Linked DNA regions of Homo sapiens. The protein of the gene in region 1 interacts with the protein of each later gene in a biochemical or structural test. Each region holds a gene or a part of one and is shown on either strand. Other genes may lie near its edges.

Region 1 (7,952 bases):
TCCATCTACACATACAGTTCAAAATTACTCGCTGAGTTTTTAACGGAAAATTAGGGTCACGAAGTTAACACTGTAATTAATATATGTAACTGAAACTACTAAATATAAGAGAAACAATTCTGTACGTGAGATGTATAAGAAAAGCAGAGTTTGTTTTTCTTTTGAACAACATTTCGTGTAGTAATAAGAGATTGTAAAATATTTTTATCTTCTGAGTAAACAGAAAAAAAAAAAGGGGAAAGAGGGAGAGACATTCTGTTTGCCTCACGCTGTCTTTAGTAGGTCTATTGATTGCTTGGGAAACTAAGTCTCCTCTCTGTCATAGTAAAGGTTTTTGGTTTGGGAAATCTCTGAATTACCAATTTGATTAAATGAATGGCTTATTTTACAGTGACCTGTGGTCCTATTTTGAGATTGTTTTAAGCCTCTGATATTTGACTTCCCAAAACCAAATTTCAAGTCCTAACATTAAGGGTTTTTTTCACCTGAACTAACTTGGATATAACAAATAGGAACCCCGAGAAGTCCAAGGGAGATGTACGAGGCTTATGTGGTATGTTAAAATCATACAGGAAGCATTGTCAAATGTGGAATGCTGTTGGAGTTATATTGGTATAAATGTATTATTAACATATGTTCCAAAATTGTATGAGATTCCTAAAAATTCTGACATGTCTTGGTATATGTTATCAGTCGTGATTACGATTATATGTTAAACTGTTTTAACCTCAGAAGTAACCAAATTCCCTGCCAATCGCGTCTTCACCCATGGCTACTCTAAGTCTTTTGTCATCTGCAGAAAATTACTGTTTTACTTTGATTCTTCTCAAAATGCAGTTTAAGGCCGGGCACGGTGGCTCATGCCTGTAATCCCAACACTTCGGGAGGCTGAGGCGGGTGGATCACTTGAGGTCAGGAGTTCGAAACCAGCCAGGCCAATGTGGTAAAACCCCGTTTCTACTAAAAATACAAAATTAGCTGGGCATGGTGGCTCATGCCTGTAATCCCAGTTACTTGGGAGGCTGAGACAGGAGAATCGCTTGAACCTGGGAGGCGGAGGTTGCAGTGAGCCAAGATCGCACCACTACACTCCAGCCTGGGCAACAGAGCGAGACTCCATCTCAAAATAAATAAATAAATAAAATAAAATAAGGTACAGTCCAAAATTTGCATTTTCTTCAAGGAAATTCATGGAAAGGACATTGACAAGTATACAGACTTCCGATAACCTGGGAGATCACACCAGTAGACCAGATAAAAACTTCCAGGACTCTTATTTAAAAGCTGATGCATTCATGAGGATTGTTAACCCAACATCATACAGAAAAAAGCGGCCGGGCGCGGTGGCTCATGCCTGTAATCCCAGCACTTTGGGAGGCCAAGGCGGGCGGATCACGAGGTCAGGAGATCGAGACCATCCTGGCTAATACGGTGAAACCCCATCTCTACTAAAAATACAAAAAAATTAGCCGGGCATGGTGGCAGGTGCCTGTAGTCCCAGCTACTCGGGAGGCTGAGGCTGGTGAATGGCGTGAACCCGGGAGGCGGAGCTGGCAGTGAGCCGAGATTGTACCACTGCACTCCAGCCTGGGCGACAGAGGGAGACTCCGCCTAAAAAAAAAACAAAAAAAACCCCAGCAAATTACATAGAACTGAACTGATAGAGGCCTGAAATGCTTTTTATGATTTTTTGTTGTTATCGAAACCTTGCTGACTCTTTTTATATTTTGTTTTCCAGAGTCAGAAAACCTTTTTCTTTTTGAGCTATTTATAGCTATAGCAATTGAGTGACATATACTTTTGTGAGCAAAACTGAAATATTTGTCTTTTTCTCTACCTGATTTCTCAAAAATCTGGAAGCGATTCATGAGTATTCTTATTTTATGGCAATGTAGTTCTTTGCATGAGTTCAGTAAGAATCTGTTGTCCTTGTAACAGGACACAATTGGAGACCCTGGTTATTCTACCAAGGCTTGGACTGGGATGACGTATTTTTGGATATGACGAGACTGCTTTGAGGAATCGAGGTTCGCTTTATAGAGCCAATAAAAAGCCCCTTGGGATGACTGGACTGGTGCCCTGTTTACATAGTTCCCTTAAAAGGTTCTTGGCCTTGAGGTAAGGAAAGAATGTCACTTTCCGACAGATCCAGGAACTTCAAGATAGTTTGGGACCTGGAGGACAGACATTCACCCCCCCCCCCAAATTCATACAGGTATTATACATACACTGTGATGGGGAGCCACTGGCTTGGCTTCCTAGACATGGGAAGTGTTTGTTTTGTTTAGAGACAGGGTCTCGCTCTGTCACCCAGGCTGGAGTGCAGTGGTGCGATCATAGCTCACTGCAGCCTCAATCTCCTGGACTCAAGCGATCCTCCCATTTCAGCCTCCTGAGTAGCTGGGACTACAGGTGAGCACCACTATGCCCAGGTAATTTTTAAATTTTTTGTGGAGACAGGGACCTCGCTATGTTGCCCAGGTTGGTCTCAAACTCCTGGGCTCAATGAATCCTCCCACCTTGGCCTCCCAAAGTGCTGGGATTACAGGCATGAGCCACCATGCCCAGCCCTCAAGTGGCTTTTAAAGGTCTATTCTGACCCTCTTGTAGTTCATAAGCATGATGATTGCCTCATGTGTAGGGTCTGTCTCCTTCAAACGCTGTTATGACGCCAGCACATTACCTGTCTGATGTGGGGAAAAAAAGTCTGAAATTCCTTATGGCAAAGTTCCAGCCAGTTTAGAAAGGAGCCTATATGGCCAATCACCACTGTTGTACTTTAGGCAAATAATCAGGCCAAATATAATCCTAAAATTTATTTTACAAGTAAATTGGTCTTACCAAGATTTATCTTTGGTAGAAATGGGGAAGTAGAGAAAAATTATGTTTCAGAGAAAAACTACAGCATACCTGTTACTGGATTCTAGCCCTGATCATTGTATTTTTTATTTTCCTACAATCTGGACTAAATCCTGAACAATCTTCTGGCTACAAGTCTCAAAGAAGAACCTGGCTGGGCAGAGGTTCACACCTATAACCCCAGCACTTTGGGAGGCCCAGATGAGAGGATCACTTGGGCTCAGGAGTTCGAGACTAGCCTGGGCAAGGTGTCAAGACCTAGTCTCTACCAAAAAAATTTAAAATTAGCCGGTCCTGGTGGCAAACACCTGTATTCCCAGGTACTCAGGAGGCTAAGACAAGAGGATCATTTAAGCCCAAGAGTTCAAGGCTGCGATGAGTGGGAATCGTGCCTCTGCACTCCAGCATGGGTGACAGAGCAAGACCCCATTTCTAAGTAAACAAATAAATAAAAAGAAAGAAGAACATGGATTTTAGTTTCTTCATGTTTTTAGTTGTCTCCCTAATGGAACAGGTTTGTTTTTTTCATCCTGGCATACAAATTGGTTATAGTCCTATGTGTTACTTCTGAGAAAATTAAAATTAATGGTGTTTCTAAAAACTAGAGATGATTCAACAGGTGACAGCAGTTGTATAAATTAATGACTTCACTGAGACCTCATGTTTGCCACCCTGTAATGCCATTCCAATTCAGTTTGTGGTGTTCTTAAAAAAAAAAAAAAAAAAAAAACTCCCTGAAATGTCTCCTCCTTCCCTGCTTGGCATGGGACAGGACTATGTGGGAATGAGCCTTCCCAGCAAGAGGGGACACTCTGACCCTCAGATTTTGATAATCAATGCTTTCAAGAAGAAAGATTTTGATCAAAAGGGGGGCAAATGAGAAAGAAAAAAATCATTTATCTGAGGAATGTAAAGCCCTTTTAAACTGTGGGCCCAGAAAGCTTGATGTTAAGTGCCAGAAAGCATTTCAAATGAAACCGCAGCCCCTCACTACCCCTCGAGCCAAGTAACTATCCACTGATGACACCAAGCCGTGGTCAATCGCGAACCAATGCCATTTCTACAAGCCAGTGAGCTCCTGGGCAACGTTCGAAACCACCTGCTCTCCGATGGGCTCTGTTTTCTTTAAAAACCTGAGCCTCTGTTTTGTTCTCCGTTGCACCTGGTGACCCAGGCCGCCCTCGACCTCTGTGCCTGAATAAACCCACCGGGCACCACATTCTGACCCTTTTAATTATTTTAGGTTGACAACTAATACAGGACTCAGCGCCGGTGGACAGGAAGCCAGGGCCCCTGCAGGGAGGCGCCCGTCCCTTCTCCCGGGGAGGGCAGGGCGGGCGCGCGCGCGTCCCACCGGGAGCGCCTCCTCCTCGGCGAGGGAGCGAAGGGCCTCCGGGTCCTGTGATGTCCGTGCTCGGAAGGCGCGGAGGAGGGCAGGCCCTGCGGGACAGGGCGGCGGGGTCGCCGGGGTCGGCTCAGCTCCCCGCGGCGTCCGGCTGCTCGGCGGCCTCCGGAGCGGGGCCCTGCGGGAGAACGCACCTTCCCCGCCCCATCGGGGCCTCAGTTTCCCCACCCCGGGAGAGCCGGCGGCCCGCCCCCGGCTCACTCCCAGCTACGGCCCTCACCTCAGGACGCGCACCCGGCCCGGCCCCGCTCTGCCCCCGGCGCCCAGACCGCCCACCTGGCCCGCGCGGCCCGGGGTCGCTCACCTGCGGGGCCGGGACCGCCCCACACCGTCCACGCCCGGCGCGGAACCTTGGCCCGACCGCAGCCGCTGGCCCGGAGGGCTTTATCCGGCGCACCAAGGCCAGCGCGGGCGGGGCGAGGAAGCCGGGCGCACAAAGCTCCCGGCGGAAGTCCGGCCGGGGCGGGGGCCGAATGGGAGGTGGGCGAGGCCTGAGGGTCTGGAGTGGGCGTAGCCGTTTCTGGCGGGGGCGTGGCCTTACCGGGGAGGGGCGGGCGCCTGCCGCCAGGGGGCGCCGCGGGGCAGCGGGGTTGCACCTGGCGCTTGGCGCCCGCACCTCTGCCCGCCTCGGAGACCCCGCAGCCCCGCGCCGCCGCCTGGCCCCGGCCCCGGCCCCTCCGCGGGATCCTGGCCCCTCCTCGAGCGCCGCCACCGGCCGCCATGGCCTCTCTGGGGGACCTGGTGCGCGCCTGGCACCTGGGCGCGCAGGCTGTGGATCGTGGGGACTGGGCCCGCGCCTTGCACCTCTTCTCGGGCGTCCCGGCGCCGCCCGCCAGGCTGTGCTTCAACGCGGGCTGCGTGCACCTGCTGGCCGGGGACCCCGAGGCCGCGCTGCGGGTGAGCGGGGCGTGGGGAGGCCGGTGCGGGCGACGCCTCCGCCTCGAGCCCCTGGGGAGGGCCCAGCGCCCCTCCCCGACCGTCACGGGGTCGCCCTGCCGCCCCCGACCCAGCGAACGCCCCGGCAGGTGGGAGCCGAGCAGGGGGGCCGCACCTGAGCTAAGCGAGGCCGCGCTGGGGGGCGCGGCGGTCACCGGGAGAGGCCGGGGCCCGAGGGTGACTCACACCGGGAAGGGGGAAGCTGCTGGGCTGGGTCAGGCCCGAGGGACCGCCCTGCCCTAAGGGGAAAGCGTTGCGCCTGTGGTCATGGCCGGGAGACCGGGTCAGTCTCCTCCTCAGAGCCCTCAGCCCTCCCCCAGCCCACTCCCCGAAACAGCCAGGAGTCCAGGGTGCCAGGGTGCAGCGGCCGAGGCCCTGCACGGAGCCCGGTGCCCTTCTCGTGCCCCCTCGCGTTCCGGGGCCGCCTGTTCCTGCGCATCCCAAACGCCAGCGCTGCCCACCCCCGCTCAGTCCCAAGCACCCCGCAGAAGCAGGCAGGTGCCCACGGTTACTGAAGGCTCGGTGACAGCAGTGATTTAAAGGAGAGGGAACTGCGCGCTGTGGGAGGGTCTCCACGCCCCTGACTGGCAAAATATCCCCCTTGGAGGAGACTGGGCAAAGCGCATGAGACCCCCCTCTCTTGTGTCTTAAAGCTGCGTACAAATTTACAATCACCTCCATAATGATTTCATTTTTTTGTTTGTTTCAAAGATGGAGTCTCGTTCTGTCACCCAGGCTGAATGGAGTGCCGTGGCCCAATCTTGGCTCACTGCAACCTCTGCCTCCCGGGTTCAAGCAATTCTCCTGCCTCAGCCTCCCTAGTTGCTGGGAGTACAGGCGCCCACTACCACGCCTGGCTAATTTAGTATTTTTAGTAGAAACGGGTTTCACCATGTTGGTCAGGCTGGTCTTGAACTCCTGACCTCAGGTGATCCACCCTCCTCGGCCACCCATAGTGGTGGGATTACACATGTGAGCCACCTTGTCCGGCCCACAATGATTTCATTTTAAAATGTTATCCAAGAAAGGGAATGTAATCTTTAGACACCAGGTGGTTCAGCAACAAATCCTATGTCCGGGGCTAACCCAGTCACTTGTGCTCTTGTGCCTGGTTTCACTACAGAGAGGGGACGCAGTGAAAGTCATACGACTAACCCACAGCATATGCATGTTAGGAATATGGGAACTTAGGAAAGCAGATGGAACAGCTATGATTCATAAAGCCGATCACGTGAGGGGCAGCCCAGGGTGCAGAGGGTGTCGCTGGAACTGCTGTCTCTTGTTAGGAGCCTTGCGTGACGTTTGGGGCAGACAGGTGGGTTCTGCTGGCCCTGAGCCGCCACCCCACATCAGGGCTGCGTGCCTGTGCTCAGCCGCCACACTTCACACCTGTGTGAACTTGGTTCAACGACAAGCCCCCACTCAGCCAGATTTGTGAAAGAGACCGTAGCACCCTTCCTGTCACACACATTTAACTGATGGCCACGGTCCCTGTTCAGAACCTTCTGTGTCCTCCTGAGTCTGGTTTAAGGAAGAGCTGTGCTTTACACACAGATAAACACATGAAGACGTGTGTTGTTCTTTCTGATTCTAATAGATTTCTAGGGTGTCATTTTGCATGAACTATCAAAAAAGGATTTTTATTTTATTTATTTTTTGAGACGGAATCTCGCTCTGTCTTGCAGGCTGGAGTGCAGTGGTGCGATCTTGGCTCACTGCAACCTCTACCTCCCGGGTTCAAGCGATTCTCCTGCCTCAACCTCCCGAGTAGCTGGGACTACAGGCGCGTGCCGCCATGCCCAGCTAATTTTTGTATTTTTAGTAGAGATGGGGTTTCACCATGTTGGCCAGGCTGGTCTCAAACTCCTGACCTCAGGTGATCCGCCCACCTCAGCTTCCCAACATGCTAGGATTACAGGCGTGAGCTAACATGCCCGGCCTGTAATGCAGTTCTTTAGCTGCTGACTCTGGGATCTGGACTGCGTTATCTCGTCTCCAGTATGTGACAGCCAAGGTTGCCTGAGGTCAGGAGTTTGAGAATGTCTTGAACCCAGAGGCGGAGGCAGCAGTGAGCCAAGATCGAGCCACTGCACTCCAGCCTGGGTGACAGAGCGAGACCCCGTCTCAAAAAAAAAAAAAAGGATTTTTAAAAGACAAAAATCTTGCATAACCCCACTCCCCAGAGGTAACTATTATTAACATACTGGAACACTTTTTTCTGGCCTCTGTCCTTGTGCTCATGGTAAACACATTGGTTTTAGCAGCACCTCAGTGGGCTCTGCGCCTTGGACGGGTTGGGGTTGGGTGGGCTGTGGCAACCTGAGTGGCGACAGCCCTGCCCAGGCAGGGGCTCCGAAGGTTCCTGGACAGGAGCAGGAGGGGCTGTGGGGGGTCCCCAGGGGCTGACGGAATTCCGTGGCCCTGTCACCCATCACGCTGTATCTGTGATGCTGCGTGACCAGGTTACAGACCTTGGCATCCCGTGGGCATTTTTGTCCCCAGGCATTTGACCAAGCCGTGACCAAGGACACCTGCATGGCGGTTGGCTTCTTCCAGCGAGGAGTGGCCAACTTCCAGCTGGCAAGGTGAGTACAGGGGTGCCTTGTTCCTTCTCTGACGGCCCTTTGTCTCCCTGCAGAGTCCACTCCTGCACCTCCTCCTCCTCCCTCTCCATCCACTCCCTCCTCTTGCCCACCCCCTCCTCCATGGTTCCTGGCTCCAGGGAAACCTGAGACTGTGGCCCTCGCCTCTG
Region 2 (7,833 bases), on another chromosome or scaffold:
AAGGCGTGCGGGCAGCGCTTGAGGCCCTGCTGCCCTACACTGGTATGTGGGCACAGCCTGGGGTTGGGGGATCCTGGTGGGCGTGTGGACCACCCCCCTGACCTCCCTCTGTCCAACCCCAGAGCGGCACTTTCAGCGGCTCAGCAGGACCCTCCAGGCCGCCGCTTTCTTGGACTTCCTGTGGCACAACATGAAGCTCCCTGTGCCGGCCGCCGCCCCCACCCCCTGGGAAACCCATAAAGGCGCACTGCCCTAGCCGGTCCGGCCTCTCTCCAGTCCATCCTGAACCCCTGGAAAACCCATAAAGGCCGCTCTCCTGGCCGGCTCTGTCTCTCTGGACTGCAGTCCAGCCCCCCACCCTGGCCAACACCCTACCTAGCCAGCCAGAAGGGCACTGGAGCTGATGGTCTCGGCCCTGCCACGCCCATCCCGCACCCTGGCCTGGCAGAGATCCAGCCCGCGGCTCCGCACGCTTAGACGGTGGGGGTCATGCAGAACAAGCTTTACTCAGAGGAACAGCAAATGGCCCCCTCCCATCCCTGCTGGCCAGGGAGATCCGCCCTCCCCGCTCCTCCCCAGCCCTGGGATGGCGCGGTCCATCCCCTCATCGGGATCCTCGCGCTCACTGCTCCGTCGTGGGGTGCGGCACAGAGTCCACGCACCCTCGAGGGCGGCCCTGGCGCCGTGGGCGCCGCTCCAGGGCCCTGCGTGTGACGGTGCAGCAGCGGCTCTGGATGGCGCCCGGCGAAGGTCGGGTGGGCACGGTGGGGGGAGGGGCGGTGGCCTGGGAGGGTTCAGGGAAGCCCCGGGCCTCACCCGCCGGGTCGTCTCCTCCACGGAACCCCGTCCCGCTCAGGAGAGCGCCCAGCCCTTCCGGCCGCAGCAGCACCGCGGGGAGTAGGCCCGCCCGGTCGCCGTACCTGCGAGGGGCGGGGTGTGGTTAGGGCCCCGCCCGCCTCGGCTAGCCTGCCCTGCCCACGCCCGCTCCCGCGTACCTGCATAGCCACCAGCCGCGGTCTGACGTTTCCAACACGCGCACGCGCGCCCCCGCGGGCACGGACAGCTCATCTGCGCGGCTGCTCTCGTAGGCGCGGGAAGCACAGAACTGGGGACCTGGTGGGAGTGGGTGTTTGGAGTCACCGCGGGGCCACAGAGGACGAGGCCCGCCCGCACCCTTCTCCACATTCTCCTTGCTTGAGTCTGCTGACGGCGGGGCCGCTCTAAGACCGGTTCGGGGCTTCCTCTAGGTGCGGAGACCAAGCACGGGCTCCTGGCCCGCCCTGCCCGCGGTGCTTCTGGCCCAGTCTTGCCACACGGTCAAGCCGCAGTGGTGGCGTGAGGGGTGGGGTTAGGCGCATACCGCTGCTCCCTAGGGACGGGCCTCCCTCCCGGCCTTGGCCCGGGGCCGCCTCCTCCAGGTAGGGCGCTGGAAACCAGGCGGTCTGCCGGTCTTCGTTCTCCACCAGCCACCAGCCTGTGCGCAAGAAGCGGGCAGGGACTCAAATCTCGAGGCTCCCTCGGGTCCAGGAGCAGAGGAGCAAATCCCTGGGTTCTTGGGGGGCCCTACCTGAGGGGTGCCGCAGCAGCACGTCCAGGCTCTCCTGGGCCTGCGCCTGAAAAGGCCTATCCCGCGTGTCCTGGGTACAGAAGGGCTGCAGGCAGCGCAGGCTCTGAGCCTCCAGACTGTGGATGGAGAGGCGGCCCGCAGCGCGAGAAAGAGGCTGCTCCTCTGGGGTGGGCAGGATCACCCGGCTGGGAAGGGCAGCCCGTACGAGTGAGAGGTAGGCGGATGGGGAGGGTGAAACTGGGGGCGCCACCCCGGCAAGACCGCCAGCCTCCCACTCTCTGCCCCTATTCGCTGGCTGTTCCCCCCCACCCTGGACCTCTCCCAGCTCCAAACGCCGCTGCATGCTGGGAGTTTGGGGCGAGTCAGGCACCTGCCGGGTGGCAGCGCGGGCTCCAGGTCCAGGGGTTGCGGTGCGAAGAAGCCAGTGATCGTCGGGCTCCGTGCCACGCGCTCTGCAGTCGCCAGCAGCCTCCGAGAATAGGTTTCCAACAGCTGCAGGCGCGCCAGGCCGCGGCTCGTGCGCCCCACGCGTCCCAACAGTGGTGCATCTTAAGGCACCACAAAAACGTACTGTGATACGCCGCTTTGGGCTTCACTGGTCCCTGGCGCCCCCAGGCAAGCCACCGCCTTCCCCGCTCCCGTACCCAGGCTGGCCTGACCGAGAAGCTTTGGGAGAACGCGGTCAGATCTCCGCAGCAGGCCCGCCTCCACCGGGAAGGTCTCCTTGAGGGTCTTCTGAGGGCGGGAACCAGGGCATTGGTCTTCCAGAGCCCACTGTGCACCCTTGAGAGGGCGGGGTCCCTCACCCGGATGGCAGGGGCTGGGAGCTTCAGCAGGGACGAAGGGCCTCCAGTGGGAGTCACTGATGGGAGGCAGTCCAGTGGGAGGCAGCCGCGTGGGGAAGCCGCCACCGCGGCATCAGGGTGGCCCAGGGTCACTCACCTTGAGCTGCCTGAATTCGTCCCAACTCCTGCGCACGAAGGTGTCGCTGCCGTCTGACCAGCGCACAGAGAAGGCAAACGTCTGGGGGACAAAAAGTTGGGAGTGCCGTGGAGGTGCTGGTCCAGGCACCCCCTTCCTATCCCTTGGGGCCACTAAGGACCCAGCCAGGTCTTACTTGGAGCCTCTTGATCTGCACCAGGGCTGCCCCTTGCACTGAAACTGGGTATCGGGGGCCTGCCATGGCTGTGGCTTCCAGGCTGCAGATTCCTGAAATGGGCGAGGACCCTTCTGCCTCCCCGTGCTTGAGAGGGCTCTGGGGGACCCAGAAAACCCCCTGGGATAGAATCCTGGCAACACCTCAAGCCTGTGGGGTCCTTGTGGAGCCGCCCCAGCTGAGTCCTTTGCAGCTTTCTTGCTGTCCCCCAAGCCCACGATCTGGGGGCAGGAGCACAGGGATTGGGGGACTTCCAGGCAGAGCTGCTGGGAGGAAGAAGAAGAATGAGCTTTCCAGCCCTGGAGGCGTGCAAGACTGAAGAAGGGGCGAAGGGTAGGCGGGACTGCTGCCTGGGGCCCTCCTGCCTGCCTCTGGCCACAGGAGGAGGGAGGAGAAGGCAGGGCTAATCAAAGCGCCACCTGTCCTGCCCACCTCTCTGGATTCCCCTACCCTGTGAGGTAATTGCCCTGCCAGGGTGCGCCCAACAACTTTGAACTGGCCTGGGGATTTCTGTGCAGAACCAAGGACTCAGTGCTTACAGCTTTAAGTGCTTTGTCTGACTTAATCCTAATGCTGGAGGAAAGGTCTCTTAATGTCCCCAACTCATAGAGGAGGAAATGTGTGTTAAATGCGTAATTATTGTGAGCTGTTCTATACATGCTGGGGGAGGGGCAGACCTCACAGGCTCACCCCAGGGGTTCCCCTGCAGTGAGGAGACTTGGGGTAGGAGAAAGAGGGCCCATCTGTGCAGTCACTGGCATTTGGTGGGTGGGGGTGGTGGTCAGGGAAGTGGTCACTAGGGCTGTTTTGAGAACCACCTCTCAATTCACGATTTGCCATGACTTACTGCAAACATGGCCTGGGCAGAGGCTCGCCCAGGTGCCCCACCTCTCTGGCTGCTTCCTTATAGTTCGGGCTTCGGAAGCCACATTCAACCCTGGCACACAGTGGTTTTTCCTCGTGCTGGGGCCACCAGTTCTGTGTTGGGATGCACCTACTCCAGCCCCTTCAGGGAGCAGTCAGCCTCTAAGGCATCCCTCCAGGAAGCTGCCCTGGCTGCAACAAAGGGCCTTTGTGTGTCTGTCCCACCAGCACTCTCTCTCATGCCCTCAAGCTGTCCCTGGTCTTGGCATGGGCAATGAACACCTGCTCACATAGGGCTGATTTGCAGGGTTCCCCCAGCCAGCTGTCACCTTCTCCCTGTCTCAGCTGAGGGCCCAGCTGACCTGGTGGGGTCCAGCGTGTGAACCCAGGGGAGACCTTGCTCCCCTGGAAGACAGGAGAAGCTGGGGAGGATTTATTCACAAGCAGAGGCCTAGAGGGATTCTGAGGCCACCTGCCTACCCCAGCTGACAGCTCCTGCCCCACACCCCATCAGCCCTGCATGGTTTCCACTTTTTCCTCCCCTACCCTCTTTTCTTGCCTGAATAGTACACCCCACCCTCCATCTGTATGCTCCTCACTTGCCCCTACAAAATCCACTCCAAGGACAGACACAGTGCCTCACCTGTAATCCAAGTACTTTGGGAGGCCGAGGCAGGGGGATTGCTTGAGCTCAGGAGTTCGAGACCAGTCTGGGCAACATGTTGAGACCTCCATCTGTGCCCCCCAAAAATACAAAAATTAGCTGGGCGTGGTGGCGTGTGCCTGTAGTCTACTTGGGAGGCTGAGGTGGGAGATCACTTGAGCCTAAGCAGTCGCGGCTGCAGTGAACAAGATCGCGCCACTGCACTCCACCCTGGGTAACGGAACAAGACCCTGTCTCAAAAAAAAAAAAGAAATCCACTCCCCATATGATAGCCAGCGGAATCTGCAGCAAACTGAAATGGGATCAGATTGGGTAACCTTGCCCAAAACTGTCTAGCATCTTCCCTCCTACCGTTATAATAAATTCCCAATCCCCGAAGCTGCCGACCAAGTCTTTGGTGGGCCCCTGTCCGTCCCTGGATCTCCCCTCCCACCTTACAACCCTCCCTAGCGTCCCACTGGCGTTTTTGTTCCTGCAAAATGCCAAGACCCTGCCACCTTGGGCTTGGTCTCGAAGGCGCTCCTCAGCTGATTCCTCATCCTTCAGAAAGGGTCACCTCCTCAAGGAGGCCTTCCAGATTTACTACACCCTTGCATGGACCCACCAGTTTGTACGTGAACATTTATGAGTGTGAGTCCTTGTTTTTTTTTCCTGTCTTGACCACTGGATTATGAACAGAGAAGGTCAGGGAACAGAATTGTGTTCCCTGCTCTGCCCAGCACTTGGAACAGCGCTTGGAACAGAGCGGTCACTGCGCAAATAATAGCGGAATGGATAAATGAACGCAAGGAGGCACAGGAATCCCAGAGGCCGCTCCAACCGGGAGCCCGACCCCTCATCCCAGGCTCTAGGATCCGCGACAGCCGGCGAGGGGCGCCAGGGAGCCCAAGGCACGCGCCAACCCTCTGCGGCCGCGCCGCGCCCTGCGTTGCCAGACGCCCGTTGCCATGGCGCCAGGGAGGGGACAAGAGCCCAGGACCCTAGCGCGCGCCGCAATCTGTGCGGTCACGCCCGGCCCGCGTTGAGAGAGCGCTTGGCAGCCAGCGGGTGGACGCGCCCCTCAGCGGAGGGCACAAAGCCTGGCCGCAGGCACGCAGGACACTCAGAACGGAGCGATGGGGACGTCGCGGGCCGCAACACGGACTTTGCCTGGGTGTCAGCTCGGGTCCACAGCGCGGCCGAGGCGCACCTTGCGCCACACACTGCTCTTTTACTGGAGAAAGCGGGACGGCCGCCACGGACGGCGCAACCCCTGCGTGCGCCGCGGATCGACGCCTGAGGGCGCCAGCAGGGTCCGACCCTCCTGCTCCGTCCCCGCCCCTGTCCTCGGGCCCGGCCAGCGCCGCGGCCTCTGGCTCCGCCTCCACACGGGCCCGCAAGCAGGCACCGCCCCCGACTCTGCCCCCAGCCCCGGCTCGGGCCCGGCCCCCGCGAGCACGGCGCGCGCCTCCGGCTCCTGTGGCCGCGCGCTGGCCTGGAGGCTGACCTGGAGGCTCATCTGGAGGCCGAGCTGACCCGGCAGGCCTTGCGCGGGCAACATGGCGGCGCCCGGCGAGCGGGGCCGCTTCCACGGCGGGAACCTCTTCTTCCTGCCGGGGGGCGCGCGCTCCGAGATGATGGACGACCTGGCGACCGACGCGCGGGGCCGGGGCGCGGGGCGGAGAGACGCGGCCGCCTCGGCCTCGACGCCAGCCCAGGCGCCGACCTCCGATTCTCCTGTCGCCGAGGACGCCTCCCGGAGGCGGCCGTGCCGGGCCTGCGTCGACTTCAAGACGTGGATGCGGACGCAGCAGAAGGTGCAGTTCCCTGCCCGATTTCTCCCAGCCCCGCGCAGCCCCTGTCCCCGCCCCCGCCCAGGTACCCCGGCAGAGCTTCCCAGGGTTGCCTGTCCCTGAACCTTGCCCCCCGGGTAGGCCCGGCCTTACAGCCTTCATCCGCGCGTGGGTTGGATCGTCTGCAGGACTTTGGCCGGAGTCCAGTGGGCCACCGGCTGGGCCGTACAGTGGGGAGCTTTGGGCGCCTTTGTTCGGAGAATGAACTCACTCTCGGTCGGCCTGCTTCCGCAGCGGGACACCAAGTTTAGGGAGGACTGCCCGCCGGATCGCGAGGAACTGGGCCGCCACAGCTGGGCTGTCCTCCACACCCTGGCCGCCTACTACCCCGACCTGCCCACCCCAGAACAGCAGCAAGACATGGCCCAGTTCATACATTTATTTTCTAAGTTTTACCCCTGTGAGGAGTGTGCTGAAGACCTAAGAAAAAGGTAAGATGTGTTTGCACGCAGCAGAGCTTTGCACTGGAGCCTGGGCCTGGGGCTCCTGGCTGACGTTATAGCGGGGAACGTAGAGAAACGGATGCAGAGGTGGCAGAAGTTTGCTGAGGAGCAGGGACCTCCAACAGGTGAGGACTGGGGCTATCTGAGCCTCCTCCTCTCGTCTCAGAAGCCAAGCTGTCGGGATCTGCTGCTGGGTACTGCTCCTGCCACAGCCACAGGGCTTCCAGGAAGGGATTCCCTGCCTTGTCTGGCACTGAAGGCGGTTTCCCGCAAGTTAGGGAAGACTCCACTTTGCCTGACTTCTAGAGTAGGACTTCTGGTTTTAAAATCTTGGAAATCCACTGCTTTTGCTCCCAAGAGCCATCTCTTCCTCACTGAGGGATCCAAGAGCCAGCACTGGCCCTTGCAGGTGTTTCTAGGCCAGATGTATAGGGTAGAGCCGCCATTGTTGCTATAAGGCTGGTCAGTTAGAATGAAGTCTCTTGCTGAACTGACGCACCAGGGCCTGCCCTCAGATGCTAAGAAACAAGTCCAGTTTTCAGTTACAAGGCTGTGCCCAGCCCCACCCAGGCCACACTCTGCCTGAGGCCAGGGACACTGGATGCCGCTTCCTGGGTGTTAGGAGCTTATAAAATTGCCAGGTCTGTGCTGTAATGTGTTGCCTTGAGGCCTCGTTGGAGTTTGCCAAGCTGTCCAGGTGGGTGTTTGCGCAGCCCTGGGAGTTCATCACACCCGGGGAGCTGCAGGGTCAGCCCTGTTCTGGGAGTGCCTGTACCTTGGAGCATAAGGGCACTCCCAGGTGTAGTTCACAGCAGTGCCCCAGCTCTCCTTCCTTGACAGCAGACAGGGAACTGGCAGGGGCAGTGGAGCCGCTGCGTCCTCTCATTCTTTACCTGCTCTCCCTACACAGGCTGTGCAGGAACCACCCAGACACCCGCACCCGGGCATGCTTCACACAGTGGCTGTGCCACCTGCACAATGAAGTGAACCGCAAGCTGGGCAAGCCTGACTTCGACTGCTCAAAAGTGGATGAGCGCTGGCGCGACGGCTGGAAGGATGGCTCCTGTGACTAGAGGGTGGTCAGCCAGAGCTCATGGGACAGCTAGCCAGGCATGGTTGGATAGGGGCAGGGCACTCATTAAAGTGCATCACAGCCAGAGCCTGTTGTGTCTCAGTTGGGTGGTCCCCAGGACACTGCCTGTGGGGACCTGCCCTGCCCCTCTTAGGTTTGGAGCAGAAGTGGAGGTGCCCACAGCAGGTACCCACTGGCCCCCTCCTCAGTGGAGACCCCAAGGAGCTGCAGCTGA
Region 3 (7,435 bases), on another chromosome or scaffold:
GTGGAGGGGGCTGGGAGGGGTGCTGGGGGGAGGTGGAGGGGGCTGGGAGAGGTGCTGAGGGGAGGTGGGGGGGGTGGGAGGTGGGACTGCTTCTGGTGCCATCTGGTGGCTTCTTTCGTGCAACACATTCTTACCAAATGCCCGCTGCACACCACGCATGCACTGTCCTGAGCGCTAGGAACAGCAGCAACCAGGACGGGCAGGGCTCAGAGCCTCCCCTGTGTGCCAAGAATACAGACAGCCCAGGCAGAGGGCATTCGGTGCTCCAGACACAAAGTGAAGGCCCAGCTTCAAATGTGGCTGGATCCAGGCACACATCCTGAGGTTCTGCTGGTCTGGACTGCTAACCCACTCACGAGGATCCATTCTCAGGCAGCCCCAGCCTGTCTCCCCACCTGGGCACGTCATGGCTGGGGTCTCTTGATGGGCAAGGCCTCCATTGATCGAGTCCCCTTTGGACTGGGGCAGCTCTGTAGGGACCAGCCCCACAGGGTCAGTGGGTCTCTCCGTGTGCGGCGACGAGAGAGTGTAGAAATAAAGACAGAAGACAAAGAGATAAGAGAAAAGGCAGCTGGGCCCAGGAGACCACTACTACCAATGCATGGAGACCGGTAGTGGCCCCGAATGTCGGGCTGCGCTGTTATTTATTGGATACAAGGCAGAAGGGGCAGGGTAAAGAATGTGAGTCATCTCCAATGATAGGTAAGGTCACGTGGGTCATGTGTCCACTGGACAGGAGTCCCTTCCCTGCCTGGCAGCCGAGGCAGAGAGAGAGAGGAGACAGAGAGAAAGACAGCTTACGCCATTATTTCTGCATATCAGGGACTATTAGTATTGTCACTAATTTACTACTGCTATCTAGAAGGCAGAGCCAGGTGTACAGGATGGAACATGAAAGTGGACTAGGAGTGTGACCGCTGAAGCACAGCATCACAGGGAGACGTTTAGGCCTCTGGATAACTGCGGGCAAGCCTGACTGATGTCAGGCCCTCCACAAGAGGTGGAGGAGCAGAGTCTTCTCTAAACTCCCCTGGGGAAAGGGAGACCCCCCCCCCTCTTTCCCGGTCTGCTAAGTAGTGGGTGTTGTTCCTTGACACCTTTTGCTACGGCTGGACCACGGCCCGCCTGGTAACGGGCGTCTTCCCAGACGCTGGCGTCACCGCTAGACCAAGGAACCCTCTGGTGGCCCTGTCCGGGCATAACAGAAGGCTCCCACTCTTGTCTTCTGGTCACACCTCACTATGTCCCCTCAGCTCCTATCTCTGTATGGCCTGGTTTTTCCTAGGCTATGATTATTGAGCAAGGATTATTATAATATTGGAATAAAAAGTAATTGCTACAAACTAATGATTAATGATATTCATATATAATCATATCTAAGATCTATATCTGGTATAACTATTCTTGTTTTATATTTTATTATACTGCAACAGCTCGTGTCCTCTCTCTTGCCTCGGTGCCTGGGTGGCTTGCCGCCCACACAGCTCCATTCAAGCCACGATGAAAAACGGGTGGCCATCTCTCCCCCACAAGAGAAAGGGGTACAAGGCCAACTGACATCCCCTGCTCCAAGGATCCCTGAAATGACATTGGGTTCCCCCCTTACCCAGAGACATGGCTGGTCAGGAGATCAGAGCAAGGGGGTGGACCGAAGGCTTAAGTGCTGAGCGGGAGGTCTCAAGTAGGGAGCTGGGAACCTGGAGGCCTGGCTTCCGTACTAGACCCCTGCAGTCCACCTCTTCCCTGTCCCACTGGGCAGTCAGGAAAGAAGGGAAGGGTCAGTGAGACCCCACACACATGAAACTTGGGGCTGGGGAGAGGCTGCAGGCCCAGCAGTCCAGCATCTGGGTGGGGGCAGGCACCGGGTAGAAGCTGGGCATAGCTGCTGGGGTGCATGCGGTGGGCTGGAGTGGTCAGCTGGCGACAGACGAGGGGTGGCCTGTCCTTCCTGGTGCTTTCCAAGTCCCATTTTCCTCCCAGAGTGGTGGGAGGAGAGGTGGCGGGTAGCTTAACAGCCCAAGGCTACATCCTGCTTGCTTCTTACAGGCAGGACAAGTCCCCTGCTAAATCAGCTCCGCGACCACCATCGCCTGGTCTCCCGGTGAGCAAGGCCAGATTTGCCTTTTAGGAAGTTCACTGACTGCAGGAAGAGGCCAGCTGGGAGGGACCAGCAGGACCAGAGAGGAGCTGTCACAGTGACAGCTCCAGTGAGGAGGGGTGGCCAGGACCAGCGGGGGTGGGGTGGGGGCATGAGCACGGAGAAGGGGTGGCCTGCTGTATTCAGGGGCCACAGCGAATCAGCTGGGTAGGAGAGGCGCCTCTGGCCCAGGGCTTCTCACTCCTGCCCTGCCACCGGCCCTTCCTGGCTCCCCTGCCGCTTCCCCTCTGGGCCTGGGACTGTCCTCCACCGGCGGCTCCCTCCAGGGGGGCTTCCCTTGCCCCCGCCGAGCTCTGAAGGTGCCTCTCCTGGAAGATGGCCTCCAGGCCCTGACGCCACCCGAAACTCCTCAGTGATCACTCCCTTGCAGTGCCACGACCCCACACTGTCCCCAGTAGGCACATGGGCGGGACCTCTAATGCCTGGGCAGGCAGGGGGTTCCCGGGGCAGGTCAGCTCAGTGATGAGAGGGGCCCGTTTCCACCGCCCCCCGCCCCCACCCCCACCCCACACGCCCGCCTGACCTGCTGAGCGGCCGGGGCCTGCAGCGAGGCCGCGAGGATTGCGGGCGGACGCCTGGGGGAAGCCTGACACCTCCCCACCTCCATGTCCCCCACCCTAGGGGCGAGAACGGAGCCGCCCAGTCCACGGGGAGGCGCAGGGGCGGGGCCGGTCGCCATGGGAACCCGACTCCCGCCCCGCCCGGCCGCGGCGCAGACAAAGGCCGCTCCCCTCCCCCGGCGGCCGCGGCCGCGGTTCCCACAGCTCCGGGGCTGCGCTCCGGCCTCCTCCTCCTTTAGCTGAAGCTCCATTAACTCTGCACAAAACCTCGGCCCGCCTCGGCCGGGCCCAGTGAAAGGCGCTCCCGGGCGGGGGCCCTCGGGGAGGCTGCCCGTGTCCTCGCCCCAACCCAGCCCGAGCGAGGAGAGGGGCCATCCCCGGGCCCGCGCCAGGCCCCCAGCCGGATGCCGGCTTCCAATGGGGAAACTGAGGCACGGGGCTTGGTCATGCAAAAGGGGCCGGAGCGGCTGGGACTGAGACCCGTTCCTTCGCCGCGGTCCGCATGGGTCCGGTGGCCAGCACCGTGCTGGCTGTTTTAATTTGGTTGCCGATATATAAAAATCAGATTTGACATTAAAACTCGGATTTTAGTGTTTTAAAAAAGGAGTGTTTTGGGCCACTGGGATCCTGATTTCTCACTTCGCTGGAGGGGGTCGCCCAGCCGCGAAGCCTCCCACCACGGCTCTACCAGGGCGGAGGTCGGTGGCCGGTGTTCCAGGGAGCAATGCTCCGCCGAGCCCCGGTCGCTTTCAAGTGGGAATAAAAGTAGCTGTGCGGCCCCGAGCGCGGCAGAGACGCCGAGTGGGGCGCTGCCCCCGTCACCGCCAAGGCAGCCCCCCGCGCCTGCCCGCCCGCGGGGCTGACTTCAAGGACCCTGCACCCAAAGGCGGCTCCTCGGACCTGGGATAGTCAGGGTGGGCTTCCTAGAAGAGGTGGCCGCTAAGGAGGAGGAAAGGTTCTGGGCAGCAAAAAGGATCCGTTTGGGGCCGCTGCTTGTGGGTAGGAAGGCCCCGGGGTGACGCCGCTGTCCCTGGTCCTGACAGTCCAGCGGTCGCGCCTCTCTCAGAGGGGAGGTCAGGGCGAGCCGGGGCAGGAGGCCTGGAAGGTTCCCGGGGCGCACCGCGGACCAAGGCCTGCAGGTCCTGCGCAAGAAAGCCAGGCCGGCCCTGTCCCAACGCCTTTCGGCTTATTTTCCTATCCAGTGCCGAGTCTTTAGAAGGTGCTATTCATATTTCTGTCTTGAAAAATACTTCCCATGGTTTACCCCTGGCTTCTTCGCTTTTGACGGTTCTCCCTCGTTGGGGAGGGCGCCGCCGGGGTAGGGAAGCCCGGGCCGAGCCCAGACGCGGGCGCAAGTCTGGAGAAGCGCGCGGCCCCCAAGAGGTGAGAGCCGGAGGGAGGTGTCCGCCCTCGGCGCCCCCCCCGGGAAGGGGAGGGCTGGTTTCCGCTCTGCCACCGCCTCCGAGGCGCAGGAAGCAGCGCATTTGTCTCCGGGAACCCCCCCACGCCCCGGCCACCCAGCCCGGGAAATCCGCCCGGGCCTCCCGGCCCCGCCCCGGAGCCCCGCCCCGCCCGCCGCCGCCGCCGCCTCCGCCGCCCTCCGCTCCGCTCGGCTCGGGCTCGGCTCGGGCGCGGGCGCGGGGCGCGGGGCTGGGCCCGGGCGGAGCGGCGGCTGCTCCGGACATGTCGGGCCCTCGCGCCGGCTTCTACCGGCAGGAGCTGAACAAGACCGTGTGGGAGGTGCCGCAGCGGCTGCAGGGGCTGCGCCCGGTGGGCTCCGGCGCCTACGGCTCCGTCTGGTAGGGGCGGGGCAGAAGGGGTGCTGGGTGGGGGCCGGGCCGGGCCGGAGAGCGCGTCCCCTCCTCGCCCGCGCGAGGTTCTCGGCGTGGGGAGGGGCCTCGCCCTGCCTCCGCCCCCGGGCGCCAAGCGGATCTGAGGAATGAATGGGGGGGCGGGGGTGGCGGCGTAAAGAAACTTTCCAAGCAGACGCCGTTACCGGGAGGGAGGGGGGTCCTCCGGCCTCTCCCGATTCGGACTGCTCCCCACCAGGCCTGAGGCCTGGGAGGTCACAGCTGGCGTGAGGGTGGGTCTCACGCGACCGAGCCCCGAGCCACCCTGATGTCCGGGCCCCTAAACGTCTGAGCACCCACCTGAGATTCACTGAGTCGGGTCAGGCAGCCCCCCGGGGTCTAGCGGATGACCCTCCCCCGCCCGGGCTGGGGGCTATTGTCTGAAAAGGGAAGCCCCGCTCCCGGAAGCCAAGATCTCTCCCCCTGGGATGGCCTCAGACTCCCCCTCAGACCACAAACCCCACTTAGGCCCTGGGGCCAGAGGACCTGGCCTGGGGCCCAGGAAGACGACAGAGTCTGGGTGGGGGAGGGGGGTCAACTGGGCCAAGGTCTCTGTTAGACCCGGGTAGCCAGGGCTGGAGGGGCTTAGGGTGAGGTAGTTACCGGGAGTCCTAAGTTTCAGCCTCCATGTTGACTGGGAGGCTGATCATGGGTACAGGCTTTGAGAGGTGCAGCTGAGTCCTCACCATGGCCAATGCCGCTTAGCTGCTGCCCACTGGGGGGTCCTGGTGGGGCGCAAAGGCAGAGGCAGCCAGGGCAGAGCTCTGCCCCAGGCACTTGCAGGTTGGAAGTGGGACCTCTAGGCCCACCAGATTTGGAGCTCAGGAGCCGGCATCAGGGGCCGGGGGTCCCAGGGCAGGCTGTCTTCTGGTGTGGTCCCTAGCCTTCCATCAGAAGCTGTAGGTGGGTCATTCTAGCCATCATGCCAGCACAGATCTGTCTTCCTCTTTGAGACCTGAAGGGCAGGAAGAGGGTCTGGGACGGTGTGGGAGTGGCCATAGGGGACTAGGGTGGGTCATGGCTGGACTCGCCGTCTGGGAGTTGCTGAGAGGTGTCCGGTTCTCTGAGTGAGGCCTGGTCTCCCCCCTTGCACCCCTGGCCCATTTTCTTAGTTCCACTGCCAAGGCTGCGGGCCAGGTGCCAATTCCCTGTCACCTGACCGCACAGATGCAATTGGCCAAAAGAACTTGCTGCCCCACGTGCAGGGCCACTCCCCTCACCACCTCAGGAGCACCTTTCCCTGGTCATAGGCTGGGAGCATGGCTGCCCCAGGCACCTCGACCTGCGCCCATGAGCATCCCAGACCCAGCAGGAGCCGCTCCTGCTCCCCTTGTGTGGGCATGGGGGGTGGCCTCAGCCTCCACTTGCTCTGAGACAGGATCCCAAGAGACAGAAGTGGGAGGGAGAGAAGAAGCAAGTATCAGCCAGAGGGAACAGGCTGTGCAAAGGCCTTTCCTTTAGCAGGGCTGAGGGCAGTGGGACATGGGAGGGTGGGATGAGGGTCACCTGCAAAGGGAGGGTGGGCTCAGGAAGCTGGTGCAGGGTAGAGGGTCTGGACCTCTGGGAAGTGGGGCTGGGCGAAGGGCTGTTCTGTGGGTCCAGCTGACGCCCTCAGCTGTACATCACCTTCTGTCCCGGTTTTGTTCCAAATAATGATGCAATAAACACCTCTGACCAACTTTCCCTCCGTATTTTGAACATTCGGAGGCACCAGGGGTCCAGGGGCTTTGAGGTGGCTCTAGAATCCCCCTCTGTGAGCCTCCTGGGCCCATGGGGTCTATGGGGCAGAGGGAGGCCCGTCTGCTGCAGGTGAATGCCAGTGACTGTTTTCCTGCTGTGTTTTTCCACGCTGGATGGGGCACCTCTCCCCCAGCCTTGCTTTGAATGGGGGCCCCTGGTTGAGCGTGGGAATCAGTGGGGCCAGGGGACAGAGAAGGTCCAGGACCTTGTGGGGTGAACACACGCATGGTGGTCCAGCCCCAGGGGCTCCTTCCCAGCAAGCGCGGAGTGGGTAGGCCCGAGGGTGGGAGGCCGAGCTGGGGCGGCGGGGCCGGGGCAGAAAAGCCCCACGGCCCCATCCCCACGGAGAAGCGGCGAGAGGGACGCCGCCCGGGTCCACGCGCGTGCGGCCGCCCTCGGACCCCTCCCGGCGCCGCCTCACTCGCCCGCCTTCCAGTTCGGCCTACGACGCCCGGCTGCGCCAGAAGGTGGCGGTGAAGAAGCTGTCGCGCCCCTTCCAGTCGCTGATCCACGCGCGCAGAACGTACCGGGAGCTGCGGCTGCTCAAGCACCTGAAGCACGAGAACGTGAGCCGGGGGAGGGCCGTGGGGGGAGGGCGCGTGCGGGGGCGGGGCCGCGGCGCAGCCAATAGGCGGGCGAGCCCTGGCGATGGGGGCGGGGACACAGGGGGCGCGGCCTGGCACTGGGGGCGTGGCCCGGGGGGAGCTGAACGACAGCCGGGGGTTCGTCGCCCGGCCCTGACGCCCCCCGCCACCTAGGTCATCGGGCTTCTGGACGTCTTCACGCCGGCCACGTCCATCGAGGACTTCAGCGAAGTGTGAGCGGCGGGGCGGGCGAGGCAGCGGGGAGCGCGTTCGCGGTGGGGCGGTGGGGCCCTGTCCTGACCCCCTGACCCCGCCCCAGGTACTTGGTGACCACCCTGATGGGCGCCGACCTGAACAACATCGTCAAGTGCCAGGCGCTGAGCGACGAGCACGTTCAATTCCTGGTTTACCAGCTGCTGCGCGGGCTGAAGGTGGGGCGCCCTGGGCTTCGCGGGTCCTCTCGCAGGGGGGCGGGCGGGCCGGGCCCGGCGCTCACCACAATCCCCCTCCCGCAGTACATCCACTCGGCCGGGATCATCCACC
Region 4 (7,127 bases), on another chromosome or scaffold:
CATATCTTTTTTTGGGGGGGTCGGGGGGATAGAGTCTCACTGTGTCACCCAGGCTGGAGTGCAGTGGCATGATCTCAGCTCACTGCAGCCTCCGCCTCCTGGGTTCAAGCGATTCTCGTGCCTCAGTCTCCTGAGTATCTGGGATTACAGGTGCCCACCAGCACGCCCGGCTTCTTTTTGTATTTTTAGTAGAAATGGGGTTTCACCATGTTGGCCAGACTGGTCTCAAACTCCCAACATCATGTGATCCACCTGCCTCAGCCTCCCAAAGTGTTGGGATTTGACTCCACATCTTGATCACATCTTTCCCTTGTTTCTCTCTTCTGTCTCTAGCCCTTGTTCTCATCCGCTTCCCCACTTCAATTTTCCTCTTATTTTCTCTTTCCTAGCTTCCCCAGCTTCCCCTCTTCCATCTTCCTTACAACTATTCCTATGAGTAATGCCCCCTAGCATTGCCTCTTAGCCTGACATTCTTGAAACCATACAGTTGAAACCCTGTTAGAACATTACCACACTGTACTGTTTTCCCCGGCATTTGCTTACCACTCCGTAAGCTGTTGGTGCAGTTTCTGCACATCTAAGATTGTTCTCCACCAGTAACTTGTATTAAGAGCAATTATGATCATCACTATTGTGCTCTCACCGAGTGCCTATCACTGCTCTAAGCACTTTACATGGATGAGCCTACATAATCCTTGCTTGAAGGAGATATAATTTTCCAGATGAGGAAACTTAGGAAGATAAAATAGCTTGTCCACAACCACAGAGTGGCAGAGCCAGAATTCAAATGCAGGCAGCCTTGCCCCAGATCCTACACTCTGAGCAGATGGGACCCTAAGTTAGTTGCTCGTAATCCTGATTCAGGTGTCCTGGCATGCCATGAGTCACACTCACACAGGCTGTTCTCTGCTGTGATAAGAAATTGAAATTTGGACCCACTATTTGCTTCAATGACATTTAGAATTGATAACTCTTTTTATTTTCAACTTAAATGGTAGTATCTCAGTAGGACACTCACAGCTTTAAATCCCATCAAGATTTTAACTCATCACCATTCCGAAGAGATCTTACTTAAATGATTTTTTTTGTGTGTGTTGTCTGTCAGGAATATAAATTGAAGATATAAAAGCCAGCACCCGCAATAATTCTGCAACTGGTAGGAGGCAACCCAGGACCTCTTGGTGACCTTAATAAGGGTCTTCTTTGGCTTATCCAGGATGTGACCTTCTGCAGCCTCCAGTATTAGACATTCCAGGGCATTTTCTGCCTTTTAAAAAGCATCTGATTCTCATTCTGGTGTTTAATCAGAGAGAGACCGTTGGCCTCTTTCCATTCCTCATGGGAGAGCTCCATTTTTGTGCTCACATTTTTCATCTTTGGTGATACTCAGGGTTGATGTTTTAGTGGGCTAGACTTTCTGCATTGGATTAAAACCTTTCACATGAGCTTGGTGAATTCTCCAGTGACCAAGTCCCCTGGGGGCCTCCAACCCTATAGATTCCAGCATGATAAGAGTGGAAAGGAGTCCGGAACATCATGCCTGGGGTATAGTGAGCACTCACACCATGGATTTATTTTTTCATTTTCCAAGCCCCCAACCATGTAAGGTATTTTATAAACATTATTTTATTTGATTCTCCCAACAATTCTATACCACTGGAATTATGTCCGTCTTCATTTTTCTAGATGAAGAGACAGAGGCTCAGAGACTAAGCTTCCCAGTGCTCAGGGTTACATGGTGAAGGAGGCAGAGTTTGCATGTACACCTGCTGAGCCACAGGGACCATGCCTATGTGTTTTATTTGTGTGCTATCTGCTCCCTGAGATGAATGAGGTTAGATATTTTCTTAGGAGAAGAAATACTTGGAAGGCACAAATGGGGTATGACAAACTATGTTCAGCTTCTCTGTGGCTAGCAGACCTGAGCTAGCCCCCTCCCCCTCTGTATTTGAATATAGTCCCATCTGTTACCTACCTATGTAAGGCTTCCAGGTAAGGAGGATGTAAGGCTGTTGGCTGGCAGGAGGCAGAACACAGTAGATCCACAGACTAGTAAAGGCAATGCCTGTCTCTGACTTCCGATCTTAGGGCTGTACCTCCCTCATTTGTGTCCAAAGACCCAACATCTTTAGGGTTCTCCCCCTGCCTCCTCCCCATCTAACCCTGCCCACTGACAACTCCAGTGCCTTCTTCTCAAGTTCTTCTGTAATTCTTAATTTAATAATCAAACTATGCTGATAAACTATGCTAATTGCCTAGATCTGTGGTTCTGCAACTTTTATGGACATCAGAATCACCTGGAGGCTTGGTAAACACAGATCATTGGACCTCACCCCAGAGTTCTGATTCAGGAGGTGTTGCCAGTGCCGCCGGTCCAGGGACCACACTGTGGGAACCACTGAATCAGGGAGCCTGGTCCCAGTTATATGTGTGTTGATGGTGTCTGACCAGTTGGGTATCTGATAATTCAGCCTTACTGGGAAAGATGCCATGGGAAGATAGGAAGGCATTTGAGATAGGAGACTCAGGCTTTTGTCCCTTCATCATAGCAGTAGATAATTATCTTTTACGTTGACGTGCAGTGGCTTTAGACAGCTTCTCATGGTTGTGAGCCTCTGCCAGCTCTTAAATCTTTGAGCCTGTTTTCCTCTGTGGATGAAATGGCCTTTCCTTCTAATTATTTTTGATTCCCATATCAGGTTTCTCAAGCTAAGATTGCATTGGAAGCACCTGGAGGTCTTGTTAAAGTGAGGATTCTGAGTTATTAAGTCTGAGGTGGGACCCAAGGTTCTGCATGTCTAATGAGCTCCCAGGTGATATAGATGCTGCCGGTCCATGGACCAGCAATTCTGAGTTACAACTGTATACAGCAGTGGTGCTTGCCCCTGCTGCCCAGTAGAATCACCCAAGGAGCTTTTAAAAACGAATACTTGAGCCACATTCCTTGGAGATTCTAGTTTAATTCTGGGGATTAGAATTTTTAACTCCCCCATTCCCCAACCCCCATGTGATTCCAATGTACAGTCAGAGTTGGAAGCCATTGGCCTTTACCCACAAAAAGGGATAACACCTTCTGGGAGCTCAGGTGCGTGTGTGGCACCATAGACCAGGTTGGGCTGGTCGCTTCCATGCAGGGAGGGTGCACCATTACTCCTGGGGAGCTGCAAAGGTCACCTGGGAATCTTGTTAAATTACAGATTCTGCTTTGGCAGGTTTGGGGTGGGACCTGGGTTTCTGCATTTCTAATAGATATCTTAGTGTTGCTGATGCTGCCAGTCCAGGCTGGTGCTAAGTCCCAAGACCCACCCACAAGGGCCCACACGATGCCCATTATCTCTGCCGGTGGTGGCAGCGGGTAGCTTTTCTCATGTCGAGTGTTAGAGGCTTTTGGCTTCCACCATCTGTCTCCTTAAACGCCATTCTGACGTCTCTTTTATTCAGCTTGGTATTGACACAAGACAGCGGGCAATATAGGTCTGTTCTCTTTTTGTAATATTTTCTTCCTTCTCTCTTCACAGTACGAGATGCAAAAAATCTAATCCCTATGGATCCAAACGGGCTTTCAGATCCTTATGTGAAGCTGAAACTTATTCCTGATCCCAAGAATGAAAGCAAGCAAAAAACCAAAACCATCCGCTCCACACTAAATCCGCAGTGGAATGAGTCCTTTACATTGTAAGTGGTCTCTCCTTGATCAAATTTCATTCCTATACACCATGCAGTTGCCCACCTCATTATTTGAGGTAATGAAGTAGGTTCATTATAAACGTCTTTAAACATGTCTTCAGTCCTAAGACCTCCTCAGGCTGCCATTAGGGAGGTAGCTATTAGCACCTGTTCGATAGATAGTAATTTGATTTATCAAGAGTTGCATAATTCAGGCCTCAGATTATTATTATCTAATCTGGATAAACAATTCTATTTAAGGAAATAGAATTAAGGTAAATAGAATTTAAGCTAAAAATGTGTCAGGTGTGTCCACCTCTTGATGGACTTAGGTTCTTTTGGGAGTTAGGGGAGGGCATAAGGCAAGAATTTAAATAATTTTTAGACCACAGAATGAGTGAGTAACATAGAAAGTGTTATTGCCACTGAAATGGGAAGATCATTCTTGCCTTCAAAGAGAGAAGACTTCCTGGAAAAGGTGACATTTAAAGCCAGCCTGGGAGGGTTGCCAGGATTTCAGAGGTAGAGAAGGGGAAGAAGGAAGGAGGGAATAAATAAATCAGGAGGACTGAGTGTAGCTGAGGGAAAGCAAGAGTTCCCCTTTGTAGAGTAGTATACAGGAAGCAGTTTTTCTGTGGACAACCAGAAAGGTAGCTGTCTGTTCTAGAGGGACCAGCAAGCTCTGCTCTATAAAGGATCAGATAGTATATATTTTAGGCCTTGTGGGTCATATAGCCTCTGTTGCACCGGTATAACTTTCTAGTGCCAAAGGAGCCATAGGCAATATGTAAACAGATAGCCATGGCTGGGTCCTAATAAAACTTTATTTATAAAAATAGACAGTGGGATAGATTTGGCCCATGGGTCATAGTTTGTTAACTCCTGTAGCGCTTTGCTTGCCAGCATAAGGGGTTGGTATTTTACTGGACCAGGAAGACAAATATACTATTTCTTTATCTCAGGCTCGAGTCATATACATGTGGTATCTCCCAAGAAACCATGATCAAGATAACCTAGTGTTTGCATGTGTGTGTGTCTTGTAGCAAATTGAAACCTTCAGACAAAGACCGACGACTGTCTGTAGAAATCTGGGACTGGGATCGAACAACAAGGAATGACTTCATGGGATCCCTTTCCTTTGGAGTTTCGGAGCTGATGAAGATGCCGGCCAGTGGATGGTATGGAAGCCGCTTAGGTTGAGTATGTCTCAAAGCATCAGACCATTTAGACAGTTAGGTTTCAGTCTCTCAAATGTCAGTTGAGGCTGGACATGGTGCCTCATGCTTGTAATCCCAGCACTTCAAGAGGCCGAGGCAGGTGGATTGCTTGAGCTCTGAGGTTTGAGACCAGCCTGGGCAACATGGAGAAACCCCACCTCTACAGAAAATACAAAAATTAGCCAGGTGTGGTGGTGTACCCCTGTAGTCCCAGCTACCCAGGAGGCCGAGGCATGAGGATCACTTGAGCCCAGGAGGCTGAGGCTGCAGTGAGCTTTGATTCCGCCACCGTCCCCCAGCCTGCACAACAGAGCTACCCTGTCTCAAAAATATAAAAATGTAAAAAAAGTCAAATGTCTACTGATCTGGCTGTAGCCTCTCCGTAGGATGCGTTTCACAAAACCGCTCGACTAGAGGCTGCAGGAAAGGCTTGTTAAACTTGCGGTGGTAACTCTTCTTCTCCCGTCCTTGAAAGGTACAAGTTGCTTAACCAAGAAGAAGGTGAGTACTACAACGTACCCATTCCGGAAGGGGACGAGGAAGGAAACATGGAACTCAGGCAGAAATTCGAGGTGAGGATAACAAAATGCCCGGAAACACCTTTCCTTTAGAAAGCCCAACTTCAGGAACGGCCGAGATGTTGTGGTCACATTTTTGAAAAGCAAAAAAAAAGTAATCTCAATGTTAATGATCTTTTTCTTTATTTAAAAACATGAATGTTGTTCGTTCCCTTTCCTTTGCAAGCTGTTGACTTTTTATGACTCTTACCACTTAGAAAATGGAAACTGGAAATATCGCAGAACTGAGAGCATGGTTGATTTCTGCATAAGAGATCTGTTTGCACATCACTGGGGAGAGAAGCAGGCTCTGAGGGCAGGATTGTTCTTACAAAGGAGGACTTGTGCTCTTCTGAAAAGGAGGAAGTCATTTTGGCCTTTCCTTGGGAGCTCATTTGTGTGTAATCAGGCTATCATCTGAGACTTTTTTTTTCTACAGAAAGTACAAGGTTCCTAATTTTGTTCTGAAAGAGCAGCTTAAACAAATATGCCTTTGTGTGTGATCCCTTTTTATTTATGCTCCAGATGTTTAGCAAAGGCCACCTCCTTCTCTTCTTCCTCTTGGTATTTGTGTTTGCCTCTGTCCCGGATTCACTGGTCTTTTTACTTCTCCTCCTCTGCTCCTTACTCCTCTTTTTCTTCTCCTCTCTCTCCCTTCTCCTCTTCATTTACCGACATCTCAGCTTTTAGTAAACGGTTCTTTTCTGTAAGCACCTTCCTTATGTTTTAAAGGCACAACTTCTAATATTTGTCTGTTTCTCTAATCACCCTTCATTTTGGCTGTTCGAGGGACTCCTAGAGTAGCCTTTTCAGTCTGTGTAACTGGTTAATTCCTTCGTGAATCTTTCTCTTCTTCAGACTTGTTAGAATTCCCTGGAATTTCCCCGCTCTAGAGCAGTACACGTGCACACGCACACATGTGTGTAGATGCTGAACTGCTACTGAAATGTTGACACTAATGGGATGCTGATGCTCCTCTTTTCCTTCTTCTGTTGTTCTCCAAGAAACATACAGATCTGGGGGGTGGGGAAGAGTGGTCTTGGGGGGATAATAAACCTCCTTCATGCCCCCCACAAAAGAAACATATAGGTCTTATCCAGAGAGAATGAATCCCAAAGGATGTAAAACATGCAGTTGTTCAAATTACTTTGTTAAACTGATGTTTGGTTAAAGTTGATGTTTGTGGCAAATACTAAATGGCAGGGGCTCTTTGGTTAGATGTCCTTGGGAGCACAGACGAGTGAAATGATTCACAGATAATAAATGGCAATGAACGGCAGGCCTCGGGATTGAAGCAGGAGGGAGTGGTGGAGACTGGGGTGAGCTGGTAAGCTTCAGCTCTGTCTGCAGGTGGCAGCTACGGCTACCCTGCCCCACTCGATGTTTCTCACAGGCGAGTCCAGGCCCTCTATTGCCGGATCTTCCTTCTTCCAGAGAAGCCAGAAATCCAGGTTTTTATATGATACATTCTGATTTATCTTAATGTTGGCAGAGTTCTAATGTTAAAACTTAGAACCAGGCCCTGTGCAGTGGCTCACTTCTGTAATCCCAGTACTTTGGGAGGATGAGGCAGGCAGATCACTTGAGGTCAGGAGTTCAAGACTGGCCAACATGGCGAAACCCAATCTCTACTAAAAATACAAAAATTAGCCGGGTTTGGTGGCATGTGCCTGTACTCCCAGCTACT

The links.
Region 2: the proteins of NOXA1 (region 1) and NOXO1 form a complex in vitro, tested with the Homo sapiens proteins (2 studies listed by IntAct).
Region 3: of the proteins of NOXA1 (region 1) and MAPK11, one has a biochemical effect on the other in vitro, tested with the Homo sapiens proteins (one study listed by BioGRID).
Region 4: of the proteins of NOXA1 (region 1) and PRKCA, one has a biochemical effect on the other in vitro, tested with the Homo sapiens proteins (one study listed by BioGRID).

The regions. Positions count from the first base shown.
Region 1 is NC_000009.12:137,418,546-137,426,497, forward strand, and holds the start of NOXA1 (NADPH oxidase activator 1), read left to right. Parts: upstream 1-4,847; 5' UTR 4,848-4,984; coding exon 4,985-5,161; intron 5,162-7,700; exon of another isoform or gene 7,701-7,702; coding exon 7,703-7,785; exon of another isoform or gene 7,786-7,952.
Region 2 is NC_000016.10:1,978,430-1,986,262, forward strand, and holds NOXO1 (NADPH oxidase organizer 1), read right to left. Parts: upstream 3,041-7,833; 5' UTR 2,751-3,040; coding exon 2,685-2,750; exon of another isoform or gene 2,591-2,684; coding exon 2,510-2,590; exon of another isoform or gene 2,303-2,509; coding exon 2,227-2,302; coding exon of another isoform or gene 2,212-2,226; exon of another isoform or gene 2,116-2,211; coding exon 1,938-2,115; exon of another isoform or gene 1,753-1,937; coding exon 1,568-1,752; exon of another isoform or gene 1,475-1,567; coding exon 1,361-1,474; exon of another isoform or gene 1,114-1,360; coding exon 996-1,113; exon of another isoform or gene 921-995; coding exon 623-920; 3' UTR 488-622; downstream 1-487. Other genes in the region: TBL3 (transducin beta-like protein 3), read left to right, coding at 1-42, 123-256; GFER (FAD-linked sulfhydryl oxidase ALR), read left to right, coding at 5,790-6,047, 6,318-6,514, 7,437-7,599. UniProt on the Homo sapiens protein: Constitutively potentiates the superoxide-generating activity of NOX1 and NOX3 and is required for the biogenesis of otoconia/otolith, which are crystalline structures of the inner ear involved in the perception of gravity.
Region 3 is NC_000022.11:50,267,259-50,274,693, reverse strand, and holds the start of MAPK11 (mitogen-activated protein kinase 11), read left to right. Parts: upstream 1-4,313; 5' UTR 4,314-4,401; coding exon 4,402-4,517; intron 4,518-6,744; coding exon 6,745-6,874; intron 6,875-7,066; coding exon 7,067-7,125; intron 7,126-7,211; coding exon 7,212-7,323; intron 7,324-7,407; coding exon 7,408-7,435. UniProt on the Homo sapiens protein: Serine/threonine kinase which acts as an essential component of the MAP kinase signal transduction pathway.
Region 4 is NC_000017.11:66,683,593-66,690,719, forward strand, and holds part of PRKCA (protein kinase C alpha type), read left to right. Parts: intron 1-3,518; coding exon 3,519-3,675; intron 3,676-4,709; coding exon 4,710-4,844; intron 4,845-5,358; coding exon 5,359-5,455; intron 5,456-7,127. UniProt on the Homo sapiens protein: Calcium-activated, phospholipid- and diacylglycerol (DAG)-dependent serine/threonine-protein kinase that is involved in positive and negative regulation of cell proliferation, apoptosis, differentiation, migration and adhesion, tumorigenesis, cardiac hypertrophy, angiogenesis, platelet function and inflammation, by directly phosphorylating targets such as RAF1, BCL2, CSPG4, TNNT2/CTNT, or activating signaling cascade involving MAPK1/3 (ERK1/2) and RAP1GAP.